Homo sapiens: one gene and its partners. The protein of the gene in region 6 purifies or fractionates together with the protein of the main gene of each other region. This does not show direct contact. Each region holds a gene or a part of one and is shown on either strand. Other genes may lie near its edges. The genes, in order: CTDSPL2, SIGLECL1, SLC31A1, TBC1D1, TBC1D4, ELFN2 and RAB11FIP4.

Region 1 (3,500 bases), on a different chromosome or scaffold from region 6:
TAGAAAATACCAGTTTCTTGAAATTGCATAATTTAAAATACAGGTCCAAATAGGTCCTAGATTTTGTAAAATTGTTAGTGTGATTAAGACACAAGGAAGACAACTTACCAATTATTAATATATACAGAATAGAGTACTTCAAGGTAGAAAAAAATTATATGAAACAATTATTAGTAATGTTCAGAGACTAGTATTTTGAGTATAAATTGAGATTATAATAATCACTTTAGTATTGTAAAACCTTTAATAGCTTTCTAAAATGATGTAGTATTTTTCTATGTGAGTGAAATATCAGTTTACATTTATAATACTTGATACTTAAATCTGAATTCCTCATTTCACTTAATCTTTTTTCAAATGATCATACACATATACTAAAAGAGGGGTGTTTAGGAAAAGTTGAAATGATGGAATGTTTTGGTCTTAGGACCTTTTCTCAAAAAAAATAAGGAAATCTAAAAAGCATTTTTTCAAATGCCAACACAAAAACATTCCTTCTTATATTTTCTATTCTGGCATGTACAGGGATAGGGAGGCTGTGTGGTCCACTGGTTAGAGCCAAGGACTGGGAGCCAGGAGGATCCTGGGTTCCAATGCGGGGCTAACCACTGACTTACTGTGTGACCTTGGGCAAGTCACTTGACCTCCTTGTTCCTCAGTCAACCATCTGGAAAATTGGTTAAAAAGCAGGACCTCGCTGACAACCAGATGCTGCATCTGAGCTGAGCTTTCTTGGGTAAATAAATTACAAAAACAATTTAGAGTTTTTAATCCCCCTTTATAATTTAATAATAACATTTTGGGATAAACTCAAGTTCTTTAAGGCATAGTAATATTTGGTTGTAAGCTTTCAGTAATTGCTTAGAATTTTTATAGTAAAATGGCAGCCCAACGCTTAGACCCATATTTGTGTTTGAATTTCCTTCAAGAGAGAAAATCATATGGCTTAAACTATAAAGCCTATGGTGTATATATATGTGTATATGTTCTACTTTTTAGAAAGTTTTTTTTTTTTAATTTGTTTTTATTTTTATGTTTAGGCACCGGCTTTTCCGTGAACATTGTGTTTGTGTACAAGGAAACTATATAAAGGACTTAAATATTCTTGGAAGAGATCTTTCAAAAACTATAATAATTGACAACTCACCACAAGCCTTTGCATATCAGGTAGGAAGAAAGTTGATAAACAAACTCAGATTGGAAAAAATACAATGAAGACACATGCTGCCAAACAGAATATGATGGGAGAAGAAGAAGAGAATTTTCACTGGTGGAATTTCCCTTTAATGTGTCATTTTTTTAGAATTAGAAATGACAAAGTGGTATATTCCTTTTGGAAAATTTTTACTTAAATGACATGCAGCATAAATGAAGAAAAACCTGAGTAAGAAAACTATAAGATAAGCATCATTGAATAGCATTCTTATCAGTTATTAAATCAGTAATTAGTAATTTAATCATAAACATATTTGAGTACTATAGTTAGTTTATGTTCTTCTGGTCTGGTTATTTGGTTTAATGTTCTGAAATATTTTCTTAGACTATTTTGTCAATATATTTGTACCCTTTGTTAATATTTCTTTGACGTATAACTACAAATGTAGATGAGTCATCCTTCCTTCCTTTTGTTTTTTTGTTTTTTTTTGTTTTTGTTTTTTGAGAAGCAGTTTCACTCTTGTTGCCCAAACTGGAGTGGAGTGCAATGGCGTGATCTTGGCTCACTGCAACCTCCGCCTCCTGGGTTCAAGCGATTCTCCTGCCTCAACCTCCCGAGTAGCTGGGATTACAGGTGTCTGCCACCACGCCTGGCTAATTTTGTATTTTTAGTAGAGACGGGGTTTCTCCATGTTGGTCAGGCTGGTCTCGAACTCCCGACCTCAGGTGATCGCCTGCCTCAGCCTCCCAAAGTGGTGGGATTACAGGTGTGAGCCACTGCGCCTGCCTGATGAGTCATCCTTTCAAGGTATATTTTAGATTATGAATATGTCCATGTGATATGATTTCTTTTTTCTTTTTTTTGTTTTCCTTTTTTTTTTTTTGAGACGGAGTTTTGCTCGTCGCCCAGGCTGGAGTGCAGTGGCACGATCTCAGCTCACTGCAGCCTCCACCTCCCGGGTTCGTGATTCTCCTGCCTCCACCTCCTTAGTAGCTGGCACTACAGGTGCGCGCCACTATGCCGTGCTAATTTTTTTGTATTATTAGTAGAGACGGGGTTTTGCTGTGTTGGCCAGGCTGGTCTCGAACTTCTGACCTCAGGTGATCCCACCTGTCTCAGCCTCCCAAAGTGCTGGGATTACAGTTGTGAGCTACCACACCCAGCCCCATGTGATAGGATTTCTTAGATTTGCTTCACAATAAGCCAGTCCAGAATAGGGATGATGCAAAGTGGATTGGAGTATAAACTAGATTTGTCCTGTGTTTCAAAATGTCTATAATAAAAAGAAAACAAGTGAAAAGCTGTATATGATACTAAGTTATATTTAGGTCCTTACTTTTATTTGTTTACATTTAAAAATGTCTTTTAAGAATTTCATCTTGGTTCCTAGTTAAAATTATATCAATTATCCTCCATCTCATATACAACATTTAGCCTAAATTTTAAAACATTTTATCCCAGAGATTATTCACCATAAAATAAATATGGCTTGCATTCTTGTTTTTAGGCTCCTCTTCAATGAAATACCATTAATTTGTTAAGTTTCTACTATATTTCAAGTTATCATCCTACTCGATGGGAATAGAATAATGAATGGGAGATATGGTCACTGTATTTAAGGGGAAAAAAAAGTATAGGCTTTTCTATATTCTCTTTAGATTGGCAGTGTCCCATCATTCACAGTGCCTACCTAGCATTGTACTAATTGTAACTATTTCTTGAAGGAATAATGGAATATTTTATTTATATTAATGATCCTTATAAAATGTATTTTAATGGAACTTTCTTGTTTAGTTTTATATACTCTGAGAAGAAATGACACTGAAAAACCAATAGGCTTCAATTTATTTCCTTATCCTCTGTCTCTTGCACTATTGAGTTGTCAAAGAAAAGTCTGGTGACATTACTTTTCAAAGGAACTTTTAGATCAGTGTTTACTTAATAAATCTTTGTTTATTTTTTAACTTTTTCCAAACTAGGTAAAATATAAGTAAAAGAGGATTTAATTACTTATTTATTGTTTTAGCTTTCTAATGGAATCCCTATAGAAAGTTGGTTTATGGATAAAAATGACAATGAACTCCTAAAATTGATTCCATTCCTGGAGAAGCTTGTAGAACTGGTAAGTGTAGCTTATCTTTTTCTGTTGTGTTTTTGTTAGCTCAACTATATTGAAATAAATATTTTTAAATGTCTTTGCTTTGTGTGTACTGACTTATAAAGTCAACTGTGAGCCAGGTCACAGGTGCCATCATAGGCGCCTGTAGTGCCAGCTACTTTAGAGTCTGAGGCAGGAGGATTGATTGAGCCTAGGAATTTGAGGTCATACTAGGCAACATAGTGA
Region 2 (3,500 bases), on a different chromosome or scaffold from region 6:
TTGAGGTTACTGGAAGAAAGGGGTAATTTTCCCCTAACCAGTAGCTCCTGATCTCGGTCTCTTCACCTGAGTCACTTGCGGGGCGCTGTTGAGGAATCTGCGGGGGACTCTCATGTACGGACCCCTCTATGGCTGTCCTCTGAATTGTCTTTTCCACCTGGCAAAGTGTGCCCACAGAAACACTGAAAAACTTAACTTCAGGGCTTCCAGTAATGTCTGAAACAGCTCCTAGTGCTCTCATGCCTTCATAGCACCTACACTCTCCATCCCTCTCCCTTGCCCAATTTGCTATTTGCTTCAGACACACCAGCCCTGTCAAAATCTGACACACAGAAGCTGTCTAATTCATGTTGATTATTTGGTACTTATGCCCATATGTCCTCTTTCTCCATGCCTCCATAGCCCATCCTCTGCCCTGCCAACACCCAGGCCCTGGAGTCTTGGCTTCCAAACACACCTCCAGTGCTGCTTCTCACCTTACTTACCCAGCTGTAGCAGTGGAAGCATCACTTCCAGCAGCAACAGTTCTCAGGAACAGCAGAAGCTCTTTACTACACTGGCTCTGACATCAGAACCATATGGTTCAGAAGGAGTGAGGTGATGCGTAACTGAAAGAGGATGTGGGGATGGGGAGAGCAGAAGTATCTTTAGCCAAGTCAGGGGCTTCTGTCTCTGGTCATCGTGAAGGCCTGTTCACCTGGAGAAGCAGGAATTATATGGGATGAGAGGCTCATGAGCACGTACGGACAGGGAGGCAACTAAGATTGTCTGTGAAGCCTCAGTGTCATGTCTGCTTTATTCTTTGTTTTATTTTTGTTTTTTGAGATGGAATCTTACTCTGTCGCCCAGGCTGGAGTGCAGTGGCTCGATCTCGGCTCACTGCAATCTCCATCTCCCATGTTCAAGCGACTCTTCTGCCTTAGCCTCCCGAGTAGCTGGAATTACAGGTATTCACCACCATGGCCAAATAATTTTTGTAGTTTTAGTAGAGATGAGGTTTCACCATGTTGGCCAGGCTGGTCTCAAACACCTGACCCGCCTTGGCCTCCCAAACAGCTGAGATTACAGGCATAAGCCACTATGCCCGGTTTGTTTTTGTTTTTGAGACAGGGTCTTTCTCTCTCTCTGTCACCCAGTCTGGATTGCAGTGGTGTGATCACTTAAGATAGCAAAGTGTTGACATTCTCTCAGGAAAAATATGATAATGTTTAGTTTGGTGAGAAGTGTAAAACAACATCTCCCTACCACAGTATAATTGTTTTGCCATAAAATTTGAAATGAATGGTGTAAGTAACATTGTATAGCATGGCACAATGTTCCCTTTTATATCCCATGTAGACATTTATTTAATAAATTTGTTCTCAGTAAATTTCTATTAAAAAAGAGACAGCACGAGACCCTGTCTCAAAAAAATGATCAATTCCAATTCCTACTGGATATCATGACTTAAAAATCCATAGTAATTCCAGCGTGGGCAACATGGTAAAACCCCGTTTCTACAAAAAATACAAAAATTATCTGGGTGTGGTGGTACGCACCTGTAGTCCCAGCTACTTGAAAGGTTAAGGTGGGAGGATCACCTGAGGTAGGGAGGTCAAGGCTGCAGTCAGCCGTGATCACGCCACTGCACTGTAGCTTTGGGCTACAGAGTAAGACTTTATCTCAAAATAAATAAGTAAATAAATAAAATACATACATACATACATAGTAATTCATAGAGTATGGTATTGACACAAGGATAAATAAAAATACCAATGGGACAGGCTATATGGTTAGAAAAATACCTATACATATGTGATCACTTGGTTTAGGATAAATATGGCACTGCATAGAAGTTAAAGGACTCTCTTTTGAATAAATTGTGTCAGAATAACTGGACAGCCATACAGCAAAAGGAAATAAGACCCCTACCTCATGTCATACATAAAAATAACTTCTAGGGACATTGGGAAAGTCCTTAGACTTTTTTTCTAGAACAGTGCTGTGTGAAGAAATATAATGTGACCTATAAATGTGGACTACATGTATAATTTTAAATTTTCTAGCAGCCACATTAAAAAGGAAGAAATGGGTAAAATTAATTTTAATGATGTTTCATTTAACCTAGTGAAAGAAACCTAGGTTATTCACTAGGTTATTCATATTGAACCTAACCCAATATTTCAACATGCAATCAACACAAAATTGTTAAGATTTGGTACATTCTTTATACACTCTTCAAAATCTTGTATATATTTTACACTTACAGCACACTTCAATTCAGACTAGCCATAATATAAGGGCTCAATAGCCATATGTAGTTAGTAGCTACCACATTGGTCAGTGGAATTCTTTAATACAACATAGGAGAGTATCTTGGTAAGTTTTAGGTAAGGAAATATTTCTTTAAAAGGGCCAAAAAGCACTAGCTATGAGGAAATATGGATAAAATGGACTGTATCAGAATTAATTTCTGCATCAAAAGATACCATTAAGGAGGACAAATGCAAGTTGCAGGGCTGGAGAACATACTTGCAACACATACAACGTGCTTGCATCCAGAACATAGCAAGGATAAAGGGGGTAATGAATGGTGTAGTACATGAGTGGAGTGTTTGGGGTGTTGTTAATGTTCTATTTCTTGACCTCAGTGGTGGTTACACTGGTCTGCTCCCTTTGTGATAATTTGAGTTGTATACTTACTATCTGTATTAATACTTCTCTGTATAAAATTGTACTTTGATTTAAAAGCTTGTTTGAAAATAAAGACAGAGAAACAAACAGAAGGGATACAAAAGAGAATAGAACGGTTGGGACAAGTAGAAATCATGTACCTAGATGTTAGATTTAAACTCCAATACATCAGTGATTTAACTAAATATAAATGGCTTAAATTATCCAGTTATGAATCTAAGATCATCATATTGGAAAAAAGAAGCAAAGCCAAACTCCATGCTGTTTACAAAAGACACAACCAAAGCATAAGTGTAAAGGACAGTTAAAAAACCAAATGGGCCGGGAGCGGTGGCTCATGCCTGTAATCCCAGCACTTTGGGAGGCCGAGACGGGCGGATCACGAGGTCAGGAGATCCAGACCATCCTGGCTAACACGGTGAAACCCCGTCTCTACTAAAAATACAAAAAATTAGCTGGGTGTGGTGGCGGGCCCCTGTAATCCCAGCTACTCAGGAGGCCGAGGCAGGAGAATGGCATGAACCTGGGAGGCAGAGCTTGCAGTGAGCCGAGATCATGCCACTGCACTCCAGCCTGGGCGACAGAGCAAGACTCCGTCTCAAAAAAAGAAAAAAAGAAAAAACCAAAGAATGAAAACATACACCAAGCAAATACCAACCAGAAAGCCAGGTAATGTAGACATACCTACATTAACATCCCATAAAGCAGACTTTAAGCAAAAGGCATTACCAAAGATAGAATGGCATATCTCCTAATGATAAGCTGACATTAACAGGAATAAAGTATATATTTAAAATTTGTGTTTGCCTACTAACATAGTCCAAAAA
Region 3 (2,725 bases), on a different chromosome or scaffold from region 6:
TACATTACAAGTGGCCAAAACCCCTGTTCTCAGTGAAGAACCACATTGGATTTGTATTCTGTTCAGTTGTAGTCTACACTGCAGTCTTATTCCTGGTTCAAACTACCTCTTTAAATTGATTTGTCTTGTGCTGGTCTGTTAAATCCTGCCCTCCTTGGTGCTAGATCCAGTTGTGCCTCAGGGCAGAGGAAACAAAACACAGCTATCCTGTTGGCCTGTGTTGTGGTTTTGAAGTTTGTACTTTCTCTGTGGGTGCCAGTTAAATATTGGAGAGCAAGGAATGTGGACTTGTATGGCTTTGAACCAAGAGAGGGTTATGAGCCTACTGGATTGAGGTTAAAATCCAAGAACCAACATTTAGAGCTTTGTGCTTTTCTCTCATTCCATCACTTTGTAATGATGATACTTAACATGAGCAGGGTGAATGACAGGTACTGACGAAGTCCAACACAAAGGTATAATACAGCCTGTTGTCTAAAGCCAAGGAGTCATAAAACCATGAGAAATAAATAGGAATCAATAGTTAGTAGTGACATTGGTGCTCTCTAGAAATCTCAGCATGAGCTGCTATAGAATACCCTCCCAGCAACAAAACCTAATCAGTAAGGCCAGCTAGACCCAATGGCTCATGCCTGTAATCCCAACACTTTGGGAGGCCAAGGTGGGAGGATGGCTTGTGTCCAGAAGTTCGAGACCAGCCTGGACAACATAGTGAGATCCTATCTCTATAAAAAATCAAAAATTAGCCAGGCATGGTGGTGCATACCTATAGTCCTGGCTATTTGGGAGGCTGAGGCAGGAGGATTGCTTTAGCCCTGGAGGTCGAGGCTGCAGTAAGCCATGATTGCGCCACTGCACTCAGCCCGGGTGACAAAGCAAGACCCTGTCTCAGAAAAAAAGAAAATTCAAGGCCAGTTAAGACAAAATGCTATGACTTTGAAATTCACAGAAAGAAATAACAGTTTAGATTAGGTCTTCAGGTATTCAGGATAGAGATAATCTCCTGAAAAACCTGAATTTCAGAGATTCTTAGACTGGCTGCCAAAGGATGAAGCTAGTGAAGGAGAAAAAGCTTAAATTCCATCTTGAGCTCTTGGATTGTGATAATACAATGATTTCATTAACTTTTCATTTCTGTATACCTGTTCATTTGGAATTTAATGCTTGACTTCTTTGTTCATTTTGGATCTAAACTTCTCTTTTCTTCCTTCCCCATTCACATCTATTAGAAGACTGCATCACCATTTCTTTGGCCCCCTTACTCTGTTGTCCTTTCCCTTTTCTTTCAGTTTTTTTAATCGCATGTCTAGTATATTAAGTCTCCATAGCCCTCCTGATGCAGTAGACAGTGCTATGCTGTGGATATAATACCAACCAGAAATTGGCATTTATAAACCTGTTAAGAGACTTTAAGCATGCTTCAAGAGGCAGTTGACCCACTGGAATTTCTATAAGGCTGGTACCCTTCCCAGAGTTACAGAATCTTAGGTGCCGTCTCTAGTCTGTGAGGGAGGAACTCCCAGCATCCCCATTGCCCACAAATGGAATCCTCACTGTATCCACTAGGAGATTAGAAATTAAGGTTTCTTCACTACTTCTATGGTAGGGTTGTCTGAAATTCCCTTTCAGGCTGTGGGTACTGGTCTTGGGTTCTAGTCATAAGGGGTTCCTTATAAGGAGCAGGCGGAGGGGAGTACACTTTCATGTGATTTAATTTTGATCCTGCCCTCTCCAGCTGCTCCTTCAAAAGATACATCAAAAGATAGAAACTCTGGGCTGGGCACAGTGGCTCACACACTTTGGGAGGCCAAGCGGGGGTGCAGATCACCTGAGGTCAGGAGTTTGAGACCAGCCTGGCCAATGTGGTGAAACCCCATCTCTACTAAAAATACAAAAATTAGCTGGGCGTGGTGGTGCATGCCTGTAATCCCAGCTACTCGGGAGGCTGAGGCAGGAGAATCGCTTGAACCCAGGAGGCGGAGGTTGCAGTGAGCCAAGATGGCGCCATTGCACTCCAGCCTGGGCGACAAGAGCAAAACTCCGTCTCAAAAAAAAAAAAAAGATACAAAGTCTGCATTTGATATAATGCCTTAATTACTGGGTCTACAATTAATGTTGACTGTTTTAGATTGTAAGCTCCTGGAGAGCAGTATTGCTGTAGTAGGAATGTTTTAACAGTGTCATATGAAAAAGAACAAAATAAATATTTTGATTTTGTGATTCTATGCAAGTCTTTCTGCCCAGAGTGATAATGCAATAAGCTAGTCTTTTCATAGTCTGCATAGAGTCTGGCCATTACCATCAGTTTTTAAGATGTCCATATTGTGGCCGGGCGCGGTGGCTCACGCCTGGTAATCCCAGCACTTTGGGAGGCTGAGGCAGGTGGATCATGAGGTCAGGAGATCGAGACCATCCTGGCTAACACGGTGAAACCCGTCTCTACTAAAAAAAATATTAAAAAATTAGCCAGGCCTGGTGGTGGGCGCCTGTAGTCCCAGCTACTTGGGAGGCTGAGGCAGGAGAATGGTGTGAACCCGGAAGTCAGAGGTTGCAGTGAGCCAAGATTGCACCTGGGCAACACAGCGAGACTCCGTCTCAAAAAAAAAAAAAAAAAAAGATGTCCGTATTTTAGGTGGTATGATCCTTTTAGGTTTTCATCTCACTCTCCCCCTACTCGACTTAAAATGACATGCCTAGTACATGCCAGAAGATCCATGTGACCTTC
Region 4 (3,500 bases), on a different chromosome or scaffold from region 6:
GGGCTTCAAAGTGATGAGGGTAGGCCCTGAGCCAGGCCCTGACGATGGGTGGATTTTGAGGATCAGAGAGTACAGCTTAGAGAGATACCCCAAGTGGGACCACCCCTTGCCCAGTAGGCTGACAAACTAAGGCTCTTGGTCCCTTTTTCATATTTTGGGTGTTCTAGTGGCCCAGCCAGAGCTAGACTTCGAGTCATGAATTTTCTGGCACAAGTGTTGTCACATTCAAAAAAGTATTTTCTTTGTTTGAAAAATGAAAAATATATATATATGTGTGTGTGTATATATATGTGTGTGTGTGTGTATATATGTGTGTGTGTATATATACGTGTGTGTGTATATGTGTGTGTGTGTGTGTGTGTGTGTGTGTATATATGTGTATATATATACCATTTTTCCCACCTAAAATGGAGCATGGCAAATCTGGACTGGATTAGTGAGATAGACCAAGTCACAGAGCACTCCAGGATGCAGCTGTGAGCTGGGGAACAGGTCAGAAAGGCCTCAGGGACATCAGCATACATGTTGGAGTTTCTGCAGTTTTCTTAGGGAACCCTTTAATGTCACTAGAGCTAACACACTTGTCACCTGGGAAGCAAGCCTGCCAGAGCAAATTAGAGAGACGAGGGACAGTTGCTAGAAAGATACACCTGGAAGTTCTATTTAACTAGCATTAATTATGTGCTAGGTGCTGAGGATGTAGACTGAGTGAGATCCTCATTCCTCCTCTGTAGGGTGGAAGAGAGGATATTGCTTGTCTCCATGGCTCGTAGTGAACAGTCAGTGAGACCAGGCACATAAACCTCTTAGCAGAACACTTGGCCTTTCTAAGGACTCCATATGTGTTCCGGGGTAAATGCCTGTGTTTCTTGACGTAGTGATGTCTTGTTCCTCTAGACATCACTAACTTTACACAGTAGCTTTAGATGGCGTGGACGTGAATAAATGCAACTTAGGTTTTCTTGTTGGTTTCTTTTTGAGTATCATTGTGTTTGTAAAGAATTTCAGATTAGAGGATTGTTACCACGTGGGCCTTCAGGAGGAAACTGTTTTGAGTTTTTGTCAGCCCGAAATCGATTTGTGCGTTTAAGTATATGTGCTCATCAAAACAGGCCAGGCTCTGCTGCAGTAACAAACTTACAAGTCTCCGAGGCTTGGCACAACGGAAGTCTTTGTGTCACTGACGCCCACTTCAGCTTTGTGTTGCTGAAGCATTCTTTGGCCCTATCCAAGCTGTCCCTCTGGTGGTGGTGCCTGGGGGTTTGGGTTCCCTCTGTGTTGTGATCCACCATCTCAGCATCGGCTTCCACAGCAGCCATAGCAGGAGAAGAAAATGCTGGGGGCTCTCAGGGTGCTTTTAAGGGCCTGGCCACCGACCTGCAAGGGGTGCGAGTTGCCTTCCTGTGTGGCCAGAACTGATGATAAACTGTAGACTCATCCCTGCTGAAACTCGGCTCCAGAGTGCTCCCAAGGCTGGACAGCGTGTGGGCACTGGATCCCACCTGTGTTAGCACTGGCAATTGTATTCTCATTTCTTCTTTTATTCTCCAGGTGGCAAATGGTAGGATCCAAAGCCTTGAGGCCACCATTGAGAAGCTCCTGAGCAGTGAGAGCAAGCTGAAGCAGGCCATGCTTACCTTAGAACTGGAGCGGTCGGCCCTGCTGCAGACGGTGGAGGAGCTGCGGCGGCGGAGCGCAGAGCCCAGCGACCGGGAGCCTGAGTGCACGCAGCCCGAGCCCACGGGCGACTGACAGCTCTGCAGGAGAGATTGCAACACCATCCCACACTGTCCAGGCCTTAACTGAGAGGGACAGAAGACGCTGGAAGGAGAGAAGGAAGCGGGAAGTGTGCTTCTCAGGGAGGAAACCGGCTTGCCAGCAAGTAGATTCTTACGAACTCCAACTTGCAATTCAGGGGGCATGTCCCAGTGTTTTTTTTGTTGTTTTTAGATACTAAATCGTCCCTTCTCCAGTCCTGATTACTGTACACAGTAGCTTTAGATGGCGTGGACGTGAATAAATGCAACTTATGTTTTCTTGTTGGTTCCTTTTTGAGTGTCACTGTGTTTGTAAAGAGCATTCACAATACGGTGGAATTTCAAAAGCTGGAAGAGCTCGAGATCATGCCTCAGGCAAAGGCGTGGGTCCATCGTTCTTCCGAGAGGGTTTGTGTGGCGACTACACCCTCAGCGTCCCTGGCAAGGTGCAGTTGGCTCTCGCCCATTCTTGTTATGGAAACCTAAGATGATCATTGGGAAGATCAGTGATCTTGGGTCATTGATCCCTGGCTCAGAGGATAGCGGTTTCCATCATAAACCAAGATGATGAGTTCAGCCTTTATCCCTCGTGGTTCCACTAGATGTAACTTAAAGGAGTTAACATTTGAGGACTTTGTTCTACATCAGATTTTACTATTTGAATGTTTAAGATCACTTTATTGAATTTGAAGATCATCAAATTAAATAAAATGATTTATTTAATTTGGATATCCTGATCACTGTCAAGTGAAATGGATCTCTCTCTTTGGTATTTAAGGAAGTTTGTCTTTAAAAAAAAAATAGAGTGTTTTCATACATTTTTGCTTATCCCATAAGTACAGTTGATCAAAGTCATAGTAGGTAAATGCTTTATGGGACAGCTGACACCTTTTAGACCCTACCAGGTATTGCTAGCATGTGAGCTGCAGTTGTGGGGTCTGAGATATTTCTTTGTGGTAGTTTCATACCCATACTATAGAGTCATGTATTTATTTTTGCCTGTTGTGTGATGTAATGCAATCATGTTCCTTTGAGTCTCCATCCCTTGGAAATCTGACTTCTTGCAGAAGGAGTAGGCACATCAAGATATTCAGGGGTGCCCCAAGAGTCTGGGACTTTCAAAAAAAAAAGATCAGGCTGAAACTGCAGTCAGATTTATGACAGCTGACAGTTTTTCAGAGGTCGCACACAGTGACTCTCCTCTCTCAGGATGACGAGGACCTGTGCCTTCAACAAGCAAAATGCTGCTCACGGTTGTCCTGCTTGCAGCCAGTCACTGTGTAAAGCCTCTCTGATGTGCACTTAAGAGTGGGTTGCTTTCTCACAAAGATGGGGTTCTGTGCAGTCACAGGTCACTTCCTTGACAACACAATCATTTCTGATCTTTATCACTGTAACCACGTCTTCTATTCCATAGGAGTTTCTTTTGATTCTCTCAGTTGCGGGGGGCATCTCTTAATCCTGGGGTAAAAGGAGAGATTGCCATACTTAGACTCACTGTGAGTCTCCCCGGCCATTTCACGAGGAGACCACAGTGCTGCCACCAGTGCCTAAACAGGTGGCTGGCATTCGAGACTTCCTCCTGTTCCCTGGGTCAGAGGATAGCGGTTTCCATCATAAACCAAGATGATGAGTTCAGCCTTTATCCCTCGTGGTTCCGCTAGATGTAACTTATAGGAGTTAACATTTGAGGACTTTGTTCTGCATCAGATCTTACTATTTGAATGTTTACTGTTGGATTTT
Region 5 (3,500 bases), on a different chromosome or scaffold from region 6:
CGCCTAGTCACAGCAGGTGGACCTCGTGCTCATCAGAGCATGCCAATCCTAAGCCATTGGACATATGTAGACTGGTTTTTGTTGTTGCTATGTACATATAAATATATATATAAAATGAACATAGTTCATGCTTTCAGATAAAATGAGTAGATGTATATTTAGATTAATTTTTTTAGTCAGAACTTCATGAAATCCACACCAAAGGAAAGGTAAACTGAAATTTCCCTTGGACATATGTGAAATCTTTTTGTCTTTATAGTGAAACAAAGCCAGAGCATCTTTGTATATTGCAATATACTTGAAAAAAATGAATGTATTTTTTTCTCCAAAGAACAGCATGTTTCACTCAATGGTGAAAAGGTGGAAACATTTATGTAACTTTATGTGTATCTGTCTTGATATCTACTGACATTGTCTATATGAGGAAAATGATTACTGGTCATGCTCCTGTGAGTTTTTTGGGAAGGTAGGGTCATTTCTCCCTGCCTGCTTTGTGCCAACTAGCATGTTGCATCTACATGCATTATGAGTCTGGTTAGGCATTACTTTAAACATACATAAAGAGACAGTAGGACATTGTGGCTGAGTCTACCCAGCTCAAGGTAAAGGAGAATGTTGCTAATTTTTTAGCAAACTAGACCAGCATTATTACTCAAACTAAAAATATCACACCTGAAAAATTTAATTTAGGACCTAAAATGTCTAGATTAGCTTTCTGCTTTTTTTATTTGAATAACTCATTCAGTTGTGAATGAATTCCTCTTTATTTGGTGCCACAGTCACCAAATGACAAGGATTTGCCACTTTCCCACCAAATTGTGAGTGCTTGTAATTTAGGTCTCTCTACCTTAAATTCAGTATAAGGAAACGTAATTATGATTGATTTTTTCCAAAGATGACAAGCTGTGTTGAAATACATTTTTTCTTTTGACCAATTGACAGAATCTAATAAGCTTTAATAATCTTCCCCTTTTATGTGAAAAGTTTTGAGAACTGTGAAATGTTTAGGAACAAACTGTTGAAATCCATTGGAAGGGAAAAAAGAAAGTGGTACCAGTGTTACCAGCTCAACTAAAACCTGCAATTCTGCATTTCAACTCTTCACTTCCTCAGCCTACAAATAGCTCATTAGATGACATTCACGCATGCTGGGTATAGGCAAGGAAAGTAATTTTCAAAGTACATTTGCAGTTCTCTTTTTCAGAGATGATTCTATGATAGTGCCTCTGAAAGTTGATGCAGCATTTTTGCCTTTCCAAAAAGTATTTATCCTCACTGCTTTTTGCAGTACTTGTATTTTCACAGATGGATTATCTGGGGTAATTTTCTTCAAAGGGAGTTTGTTATACACAGTGAAAATGTATTATAGAGTAGAATAGTAAAGCTCTAGGGGTTTCAGAAAGCTTTGATGAACAGATGACAAACATCTGAAACCCCCTCCGCACTGTTACCCAGTGTGTATATAATGACTTGTTATAGCTCAGTGTGCCCTTGAATCCATACAGTTTCTTAAAAGACAATAAAATCTTATTAATAAAGTTAATGTAACTTCTAAGTTCTAGAAAATGCTGATTCTGTCTGCCCCATTCAATTGGGGGCTACTAATTGATTTGTTGCTTGGATTTCCTGAGAATTTCTCTATTTGTAGGAGGGGTTTTTTCTTTTTACGGTCTGTTGATGACAATTACTTTATGGGTGTGATGCACCGATGGTAGCCAAGGAATCTGTTGGGGAAGTTCGGAAAGAAACCTTTTCTTTCTTTTATTCAGTTTAAAGTAAACTTTATCCTGGATGTTTAGAATCAACATTAAGAGTTATATTATGGTGTTCAGAGATTAAGCTGACTTGGATACAATATTTTCTTTTGAAAATGAATTTTCTTTTTCATTTGTGATTTTTAAAAAATGTTGCACCAGTTATGCTTCATGCATCGTTACATCTTCATCAGGTTAATGTAATGTCTAGTTCCTTTGCAATAAATATATTGCTGCAGCTTTCTTGACGTATACTGTTACTTTTCGGGAGAGAAGCAGCTCTTGGTTAGAGTCTTTTACTGCAGGGGTCCCTGGGTACCTGTCTGTGGCCTGTTATGAACCAGGCTGCACAGCAGTGGTGGGCATGCGAGCAAGCATGACTGCCTGAGCTCTGACTCCTGTCAGATCAGCCACGGCATTAGATTCTCATAGGAGCGCAAACCCTATTGTGAACTGTGCATGCAGGAGATCTATGTTTTGTGTTCCTTAAGAGAATCGAATGCCTGATGATCTGTCACTGTCTCCCATCATCCCCAGATGGGATCGTCTAGTTGCAGGAAAACAGTCAGGGTTCCCACTAATTCTACATTATGGTGAGTATATAATAATAATATGGTGAGGATATAATAATAATAATAGAAATAAAGTGCACAATAAATGTGCTTGAATCATTGAATCATCCTGAAACCATCCCCTGCCACCAGTCTGTGGAAAGATTGTCTTCCATGAAACCAGTCCCTGGTGTCAAGAAGGTTGAAGACCGCTGCTTTACAAGATCTGCATGGTGAAACCCCATCTCTAGGGAAAATACAAAAATTAGCCAGGCGTGGTGGTGTGCATCTGTAATCTCAGCTACTCAGGAGAGTAGGAGAGGCATATATTGCTACTTATAGGAGGCTGGAGAATAGTTTGAACCTGGGAGGCGGAGCTTGCAGTGAGCTTGCAGTGAGCCATCATGCCACTGCACTCTAGCCTGGGCCACAGAGTGAGACTTTGACAAAAAAAAAGAAAAACAAACAACCAAACAAAAAAGATCTGCATGGTTTGGATTGTACCTACTTAAAATTGCTACACAAATAATTCTTCCTAATAGAGTCAGACAACAAAGATAATTTAGGAGACATTTATGTAAGTACATTGTTACCATTTTTCAACTTACTTTCTCAATGGAGACTTTTGAAAGAAAAATATAAGCAACCACATTGACAGATTTGCATTCTACCCTTTTATTTTCCAGGCCCCCTCATAGATAGCAAGGGAGAGAGAGCCACAAGAAAATACAAAATTTTCCAACTGGACGCAGATAATTAAGAATTAAGGACATTTACTGATGGATGTGATATGAATGTTTTTATATAAAATATGCATCTCTTGGAGTATTCTCATGTATATTTGTAATCCAATAAAAATACACTGTATCTTCTTGCTAACTTTAGGACTAACACTTTTAACTATTTTTTGCTTAATGTAGTAGTTAAGCATTTTGAGAAGGAGGCACTGTAGGCTTAATAGTACAGTCTCTTAATATCCATGTTGACTTTTACCCATTTTGTCACTATTTCACCAATTATTTTTTCACAGTACCAGATTAGGAGTAAGAAATCTACCATCTGATGGCATGAAGTATTTAGTCCTTCTACCATGATGTGACACTCTCATTATATTACTCATTAGCTGTGATATAATGAGAAAAGCACGGGATTTAGGGTGAGAAGTTTTATATCTGTGTCTTGGTTCCACCACTTT
Region 6 (3,500 bases):
GACACAGGCCATGGGGACAGGCAGGAAGTCCCCCATGACAGCTCCTCCCTGCAGCCCTCCAGGCATCACAGTGCACCGCTGCCCTTCTGCGGTGGGCAGGGGTCTCGGAGGACCAGAGAAGCTGGGGCCGGGAGCCTGCACCTGAGACGTCCTGGGAGCTGGCCTGCCCGCCACACGCCCCACTCTTCCCAGGCCACGTGGAAGACACTTGAAGTGGGCTGGTGGAATGTCGCCCTGCCTCGGCTCCTTTCCCGTCAACAGGACCCTCTCCCTTCTCCCGGGTGCCGGCATAGGGGTCAAAAGCCCCCCAGGATTCTGAATCACAGCTGCACACTCTGGGGGCACTGCCATGTGGCTTTCTAGGAAGAAAAAGCACCTGCCTGATTCCCAAGTCCCTCAGCCCCAAGGGACCACAGCTTCGGAAAGGGATGTGGGGTGGGCACAGGGCGGGCAGGGGTCCACAAGAGAGCTGCAGGGGGTTCCGGGACAGCACTGGGCTGGGAAGTTGGGGGACTTGAGGCTAAGCTGCTGTGTGACCCTGGGGTTGTCAACTCCCTTCTCTGGGCCTCAGTTTCCCCCCCTCTCTAAAGTGGAAGGAGACATTGCCCGATGTCTAATGCTAAATCTGCAGGTGACTTGACTCCCAGCTTGGGAAGGGACCCTCTCCCTGCCCTAGAGGGGCTTCAGTCCCTCTCTACTCCAGCTTTCTTGACCCCCACACCTGTTTCTAGCCCCAGACCCCCCAGACCCCACACCCTCTCTTGGCTTCCTTCCTCCCCCCGCCAGCCCCCCGGCCCTGCACACCCCAGCAGAGTCCCTGGGCAGCACAGTAAAGACGACTGGTTTCGGTATCAGTTTGTAAACTTTAAGGAAAATGTGTCTCTGTTTTCCTGTCCGTTATTGTCGGATGTTGGTTTGTTCACAGTCGGGTGGTGGTCAGGTGTGTGTGTGCGTGCGTGCGTGCGGGTCTGCATGTGCGTCCTCTCCTGGGCCTTGGCCCCCGAGTCTGCTCCCCGCCCTGGCCGCCTGGACCCTTCCCCCAAAAGGCCCCCAGCCCTCTGGCTCCGACCTCACCAGGGAGGAAGGGGGGGGTCACAGCTTCTGCTGGGCGGAGACCCCCTTCCAGTAATCAAGGATGTCATGCAGATCCTCGTCCTTGGCGAACTGGACCTTCTTGCGCAGGGCGTGACCGGCGGCCATGTACACCTCCTCCCGGTGGTGCTTCTTGTAGGGCCGGAAGCGCTCCCAGATCTTGTGCGTGCTCTCGGATGAGTACTCGGGGCTGGAGGAGTACCCTGAGTAGTAGTGTCTGGGGGAGAGCTGCGAGTAGGTGGAGTCACGCTTGGAGCGGGTCAGCGGCTTGAGGAAGGACACGCGCTGGCTCAGGCTGTCGGCACCCTCCTCGTAGTACAGGGCGGGAAAGCTGTGCCGGTGCTCGCTGCAGTGGTAGGCCGGCTTCACCTCCAGGTGGTGGATGCCCCCGCCCCCGCCGCTGCCCCCGCCGCTGCCCGCCGGCACCAGCGGGAGCCGGTCCAGCGGGCTGTTGAGGGGGCTGCCCTTCTCGATGTACTTGGAGTCGCCCTTAGCCAGCCCTGTGGCGGCCGGATGGTCGGGCACGTCCAGGCTAAAGACCTTGGCGCTCTTGATGGAACCACTGGACGACACGCTGCAGGTCTTGCGGGTCACGGCCGCGTCGGCGCTCAGCTGGCGCTGTAGTGGGTGGTGGGAGCTCTCCTTGTAGGGAGGCGAAAGGAAGCTGGGCCGCTCCAGGGCCCCGGGGCCAGTGGCTGAGGAGGCGGCAGCAGCTGCAGGGAGGGACTGGCACTCGAAGGCCAGCTCGGGGTCCCCACTGCTGCTGCCGCCTCCCAGAAAAGAGGCCGAGTCCAGCTTGAGAGCATCGATGCAGTTGTTAATGATCTGGTTGACCTTGTCCACCTCCTTGGCAATGGTGGAGATCTCTGCAGCCGAGCCCTGGCCGTTCTCGAGGTCCGGGAGGTCATCCTCGGGCCGAGCCAGACCGTCCCCGCCGGCGCCTGTGCGCACCTCGATATAGTTGCCTTTGGTGGCTACCTTGGGTGTGTCCAGCCCGGCCTCCAACCCCTTGGCGGTGGGCAGCTTCTCCCCGATCATGGAGGGGATGGAGGCCATGCGAGATACGGGCAGCACGGGAGGCTCGCCCAGCTTCTGGGCGGCGTGCACAATGGAGCCGGCATCCACATCAGCCCCGTAGCGCATCTCCAGGATGGTCTTCTTGACGTTGACAGACTTCTGCTTCTCCTCCTGCATGCGCCGCTTGCGCAGGCAGTAGTACACGGCTCCCAGCACGATAACCATGCCAAAGAGGCAGCCCAGGATGGTCATGATGTAGTGGGTGGTGGTGGAGGTGCTGGGCGCCAAGTCTCCGGGGACGGGGTCCCGCGTGGTGAAGGTCAGGCAGGTGTGGTTGAAGCGGCGGCTGTTGCGCAGCGAGGTCACGCAGAAGGTGTACTCAGTGTGCGCCCGCAGTTTGTCCAGCGTCACGATCTCCTTCTTGTTCTTGAGGGTCATGACGTCGGAGAAGTAGCTGTTGTTGTACTGCACGAGGATGTACATCTTGCTGTAGGGGTGTGGGATGATGACCACCAGGGTGGCCGAGGTGAACGTGACGTGGTGCAGCTTGATGGCTGGCCCTGCCGACGCATCCGTGGTGGACGAGGCCGGCGGCTCCACCGAAAGGATCTCGTCGGGGTTGAAGCCCGAGTTCTCGTCTGGCTCCCTCTGGGCGTCGGTGGAGTAGGGCGTGGGGTGGCTCACGGGCCGGGCGGGCAGCGAGCCATTCCGACACTTGGCCTGGAGTACGGTGATGGCGTTGAGGCTGTGGTAGGGCCGGGGCACCAGCAGCGGGTAGCCGGCAAACTCCCGCGGCGACTCACACTGCAGGCGGTCGTAGTTCTTGGTGACGTTGTTGAAGACCACCAGCCAGGCCAGGAAGCCGAAGAGGTCGCACTCACAGTTGAAGGGGTTGCCGGCCAGCTCACACACCATCAGGCTGGCGAGGCTGGCAAAGGTGGCACCGTCCAGGCGGCTGAGGCGGTTGGAGGACAGGTCGATGCTGATGAGGCTCGGGCACTCGGAGAAGGCGGTGGGCGTCACCACCTCGATGAGGTTGTGCTGGACAAAGAGGAACTGCAGGCGGCTCATGCCTCGCAGCATGCCCTCCGTCAGGTTGCTGAGCTTGTTGTAGCCCAGCTGCAGGACCTGCAGGCTCGACTGGCCCAGGAAGGCACCGTCCTCGATGTAGGAGATCTCGTTCTTGGTGAGGTTGAGGTCGGTGAGGTTCCCAAAGCGGTTGAGCGAGGAGTAGAGCACGGCTTTGAGCTTGTTCTCGTTGAGCCGCAGGTCGTGCACGGTGCTATTGATGTGCTGCGGGATGGTCTCGTAGGGCGGCTGGTTCTGGCTGCAGATGGCCAGCCACACGTAGCCCTTGTCGCCCTCAATGAGCCAGCAGTCGGCACGCACGG
Region 7 (3,500 bases), on a different chromosome or scaffold from region 6:
CTACCTCTATCACTCTCAGCTGTGCTGCTGCCTGCGGGCTGGAGAAGCAGTGCTTGGTGTGTCTGAATCCACAAGGCTGGTTAAACATTGCAGGGCAGGACCATGGACAGGGCCCCGAGGCACTTGTAGGGGTGGTTTTCGGCTTATGCTGTATTGACCGAGACCCGTGGAAATATATTTTGCATCTCTACTCACTACCCATCTTATCCCCTGATGCATTAAAAAATCGGAGTGTTGTTTTCCAGCGGTGGGGTGGCGGGGGGCGGGGGGGGGGGGCTCCCTTACGAAATGCAGTGTACTCTGACTGTTTCTATTTTATTTGTTTTAAAATCAGGCAGTGACATTGATTTCCCAGCCACTTGTGCTCTGGGATGGATAATGATCATTCATTAGATATGTAGTTCAGTGAACTTAGAGCTGATTGTCCACAGTTTACCACCTACCCCCAGAATACCAGGGATACCAGGATCAAATGCTTTGCAAAAACCAAAATATACTAGGTCATAAAGTATGAAATAAATATCCATGAGGCCATAATGAAATATATATATGTATAAATTATTGAACAGATGATAATAAATAAATAGGAAAATCTCTCGTATAGAAGAAATCTGAATAACGTATGTTGATAATTGCCCCATTGAGGAAGTGAAGCATAACGTCCCACCGTGTAAGCATGAGATGTGCGTAGTGGCTTCCTTATAAAGGGTAGAGTTTGGAAAGTGGGGGGAACAGCAACTGTATAGTGGAGAAACCCAACAAACACTGTCTCAGAAGGTGATCAAGGACAACATCGATAGTGACAGATTGTGATGATGGCATACACCCTTGGTGTGATGTGGTGAGAATAGAACTTTTCCTCTGTGGTCTTCCTCCCAAACCAGTAATCCCAGTCTAGTCCTGAGAAAAATGCCAGACAAATCCCATCCGAGAGGCATTCTACAAAATGCCTGATTAGGACCTCTCAAAATTGTCAAGGTCATCCAAAACAAGGAAATTTTGAGACACTGTCAGAGCCAAGTGGAGACTAAGGAGGCAGCTGACTAAATGCAGTGTGGTGTCCTGGATGGGACCCTAGAATCAAGAAGAGGACATTAGGTAAAAACTAAGGAAGTCAGGATCAAGTATGAATGTTACTTAATAATGTTATTTATGGATTAGGTTAGTCCCTGATAGTTCCCTACTTTGTTGACCTAGGTATCACAGCAGAAAAGAGGAGACAATGGGCCGGGCGTGGTGGCTCATGCCGGTAATCCTAACACTTTGGGAGGCTGAGGTGGGAGGATCACTGGAGCTCAGGAGTTCCACACCAGCCTGGGTAACATGGTGAGACCCCCCATCTCTACAAAAAATACAAAAATTAGCCCGGTGTAGTGGCGTGCACCTGTAATCCCAGCTAGTTGGGAGACTGAGGCAGGAGAATCGCTTCAACCTGGGAGGCGGAGGTTGCAGTGAGCTGAGATTACATCGCTGCACTCTAGCCTGGGTGACAGAGTGAGACCCTGCCACAAAAAAAAAAAAAAGAAAAGAAAAGAAAAGAAAAGAAAGAAATGCAGATTTTTGAGGGATGGGGGCACACCACTGCCCTGATCCTGAAAGTCTACAATGCCAGGGAGCAGGACTCTGATAAGTATGTAACATGATGGCTCAACATCCTGACCCTGTGTTGCCTTCTGATATATTGCATTGTCTCCCTAACCTCTTTAGGCCTCTATTTACTCATCCATCAAATGGGGCTGATCAGAGTCCCCATTCTATAGGGTTATTGTGGGGTTTGAGTGAGTTAATACATACAAAGGGCTTAGTCCAGTATCTGCACAGAGTAGGCATAATATCAGAATTGCTGGTGCTCTCCTTGTCATTATTATTATTTTCTAAACACTTGCAAGCATTTTTGAGAGGCTGTTCTAGGCTGGAGATTTGCTAGGAATTGAGGTCAAGATCTGGCACCGGCCTCTGTGTGCTCAACTCACCCTCCTTAACCAGCTGTGGTGTTCCTGCCCCTCTTACGTCCCCTCGGCAGTCAGAATGGTAGACATTGAAAGCAGCCAGAGATGTCCTGGACCACACTTCCCTGTGACATGGTCCTCTTCCCTTTCCAGTTTGAAGACCGTCCTTCTTGCTAGAAAAATAGAAATAAGAATCACCAAGTAGGCCTCTCCCATGCATTAACACAGCACCATCTCCTCTGGACAGTGGGCCTGTCCTGCCTGCTTGGAAATGAAATGATGGTCCCCACTGGGCTCCCTGAGTCCTCAGGTCCCCTCTGAGCTAATGCCTGCTATGGGGGAATTGCTAGTGCCACTTGGGTTAAGCCTGGGTCTTTGAAATGGCAAAGGGGTTGGGGTGCTAGGATGGGCTGAGACCGGCCAGGAGCCAGCCCTGGGGCTGGGATCGATGTCTTTTGAGATACGTGGCTTCCAGGAACAGGAGCACCTGGAACTAAAGCTCCTCTGCTCAGGAGTAGCAATTGGATAACAGGGAAGAAACAACTGTATCCCCACAGCTGTGGCTGGAGGAAGGGGTGAAGGGGAAGGTAGGGCCAGATCAGTGGTTCCCTGTAGGCAGTGAGACCTAGGCAGCCAAGAGTGGATGTGTATGAGAGAACAGGGGATGGGGAGCAGGATTGGAGGCAGGAGGCCTCCTCGGGACTGTGGCACATGGTAAGAGAGGAAGAGCATCCTAACTTGGGCAGTGGCGGGGGGTGCAGAATTGACAGGGGCCTGGAAGGCCGGCAAAGTCCCAACGAGCTACTCCCAAAAGGTGATAGTTAAAGGTGCTCTTTTGAGACCAGGCAACCTCTATGTGCCCCACCCTAATGAGGCTACCATGCAGAGTGACAAGGCTGGCACATCAGAAGGAAGGCCCAGGTGCCCTGAGCCTGGCAGAAAAGGTGGGAGTGCCTGGGACCTGAGGTGGAAGCAGGACAAGAGTGAGCCCAGAGAGATGTTCTCTTTCCTATGCTTCTGGGAAACTGTGCTCCTGAGGTTGGAGGTCATCATGGAAGTGGGGCCAGGGCTGGGGATCCCTTGGGGCCTGGGGATGGGCATGTGGCACCACACTCTGCATTGAGGCGGGAGGACGAGTCCTAGCTGGGGCACCCTCTGGCCTCTTGTGCCCACCAGTTTGGCTGTGCTGGGAGGAGGCCAGATGCAGAAAGTCTGCTGGGACTCATCCATCTTATCAGACACGCCCCTGCCTTTTTTTTTTTTTTTAATTGAAACAGGCTCTCGCTTTGTAGCTCAGGCTGGAGTTCAGGGGTGCATCATGGCTCACTGCAGCCTCGAGCTCTTGGGCTCAAACCGTCCTCCTGCCCCAGCCTCCCAAGTAGCTGGCACTGCAAGTATATGCCACCATGCTCAGCTAATTTTTTGTCAGACACTTTTTTTTTTTGAGACGGAGTCTCACTCTGTCACCCAGGCTGGAGTGCAGTGGCTCGTTGCAACCTCCAACTCCGGGGTTCAAGCGATTCTCTCACCTCAGCCTCCCGAGTAGCTGGG

The links.
Region 1: the proteins of ELFN2 (region 6) and CTDSPL2 purify together in Homo sapiens (affinity purification with mass spectrometry; one large-scale study listed by BioGRID and IntAct). This does not show direct contact.
Region 2: the proteins of ELFN2 (region 6) and SIGLECL1 purify together in Homo sapiens (co-immunoprecipitation; one large-scale study listed by IntAct). This does not show direct contact.
Region 3: the proteins of ELFN2 (region 6) and SLC31A1 purify together in Homo sapiens (co-immunoprecipitation; one large-scale study listed by IntAct). This does not show direct contact.
Region 4: the proteins of ELFN2 (region 6) and TBC1D1 purify together in Homo sapiens (affinity purification with mass spectrometry; one large-scale study listed by BioGRID and IntAct). This does not show direct contact.
Region 5: the proteins of ELFN2 (region 6) and TBC1D4 purify together in Homo sapiens (affinity purification with mass spectrometry; one large-scale study listed by BioGRID and IntAct). This does not show direct contact.
Region 7: the proteins of ELFN2 (region 6) and RAB11FIP4 purify together in Homo sapiens (affinity purification with mass spectrometry; one large-scale study listed by BioGRID and IntAct). This does not show direct contact.

What each region holds. Positions count from the first base shown.
Region 1 is NC_000015.10:44,518,129-44,521,628, forward strand, and holds part of CTDSPL2 (CTD small phosphatase-like protein 2), read left to right. Parts: intron 1-1,040; coding exon 1,041-1,167; intron 1,168-3,182; coding exon 3,183-3,278; intron 3,279-3,500. UniProt on the Homo sapiens protein: Probable phosphatase.
Region 2 is NC_000019.10:51,261,080-51,264,579, reverse strand, and holds part of SIGLECL1 (SIGLEC family-like protein 1), read right to left. Parts: intron 698-3,500; 5' UTR 508-697; coding exon 486-507; exon of another isoform or gene 403-485; intron 1-402.
Region 3 is NC_000009.12:113,262,268-113,264,992, forward strand, and holds the end of SLC31A1 (high affinity copper uptake protein 1), read left to right. Parts: 3' UTR 1-2,225; downstream 2,226-2,725.
Region 4 is NC_000004.12:38,135,584-38,139,083, forward strand, and holds part of TBC1D1 (TBC1 domain family member 1), read left to right. Parts: intron 1-1,551; coding exon 1,552-1,752; 3' UTR 1,753-3,500. UniProt on the Homo sapiens protein: May act as a GTPase-activating protein for Rab family protein(s). May play a role in the cell cycle and differentiation of various tissues.
Region 5 is NC_000013.11:75,283,170-75,286,669, reverse strand, and holds the end of TBC1D4 (TBC1 domain family member 4), read left to right. Parts: 3' UTR 1-3,167; downstream 3,168-3,500.
Region 6 is NC_000022.11:37,371,980-37,375,479, forward strand, and holds part of ELFN2 (protein phosphatase 1 regulatory subunit 29 precursor), read right to left. Parts: coding exon 1,093-3,500; 3' UTR 1-1,092. UniProt on the Homo sapiens protein: Inhibits phosphatase activity of protein phosphatase 1 (PP1) complexes.
Region 7 is NC_000017.11:31,394,675-31,398,174, forward strand, and holds part of RAB11FIP4 (rab11 family-interacting protein 4), read left to right. Parts: intron 1-3,500. UniProt on the Homo sapiens protein: Acts as a regulator of endocytic traffic by participating in membrane delivery. Required for the abscission step in cytokinesis, possibly by acting as an 'address tag' delivering recycling endosome membranes to the cleavage furrow during late cytokinesis.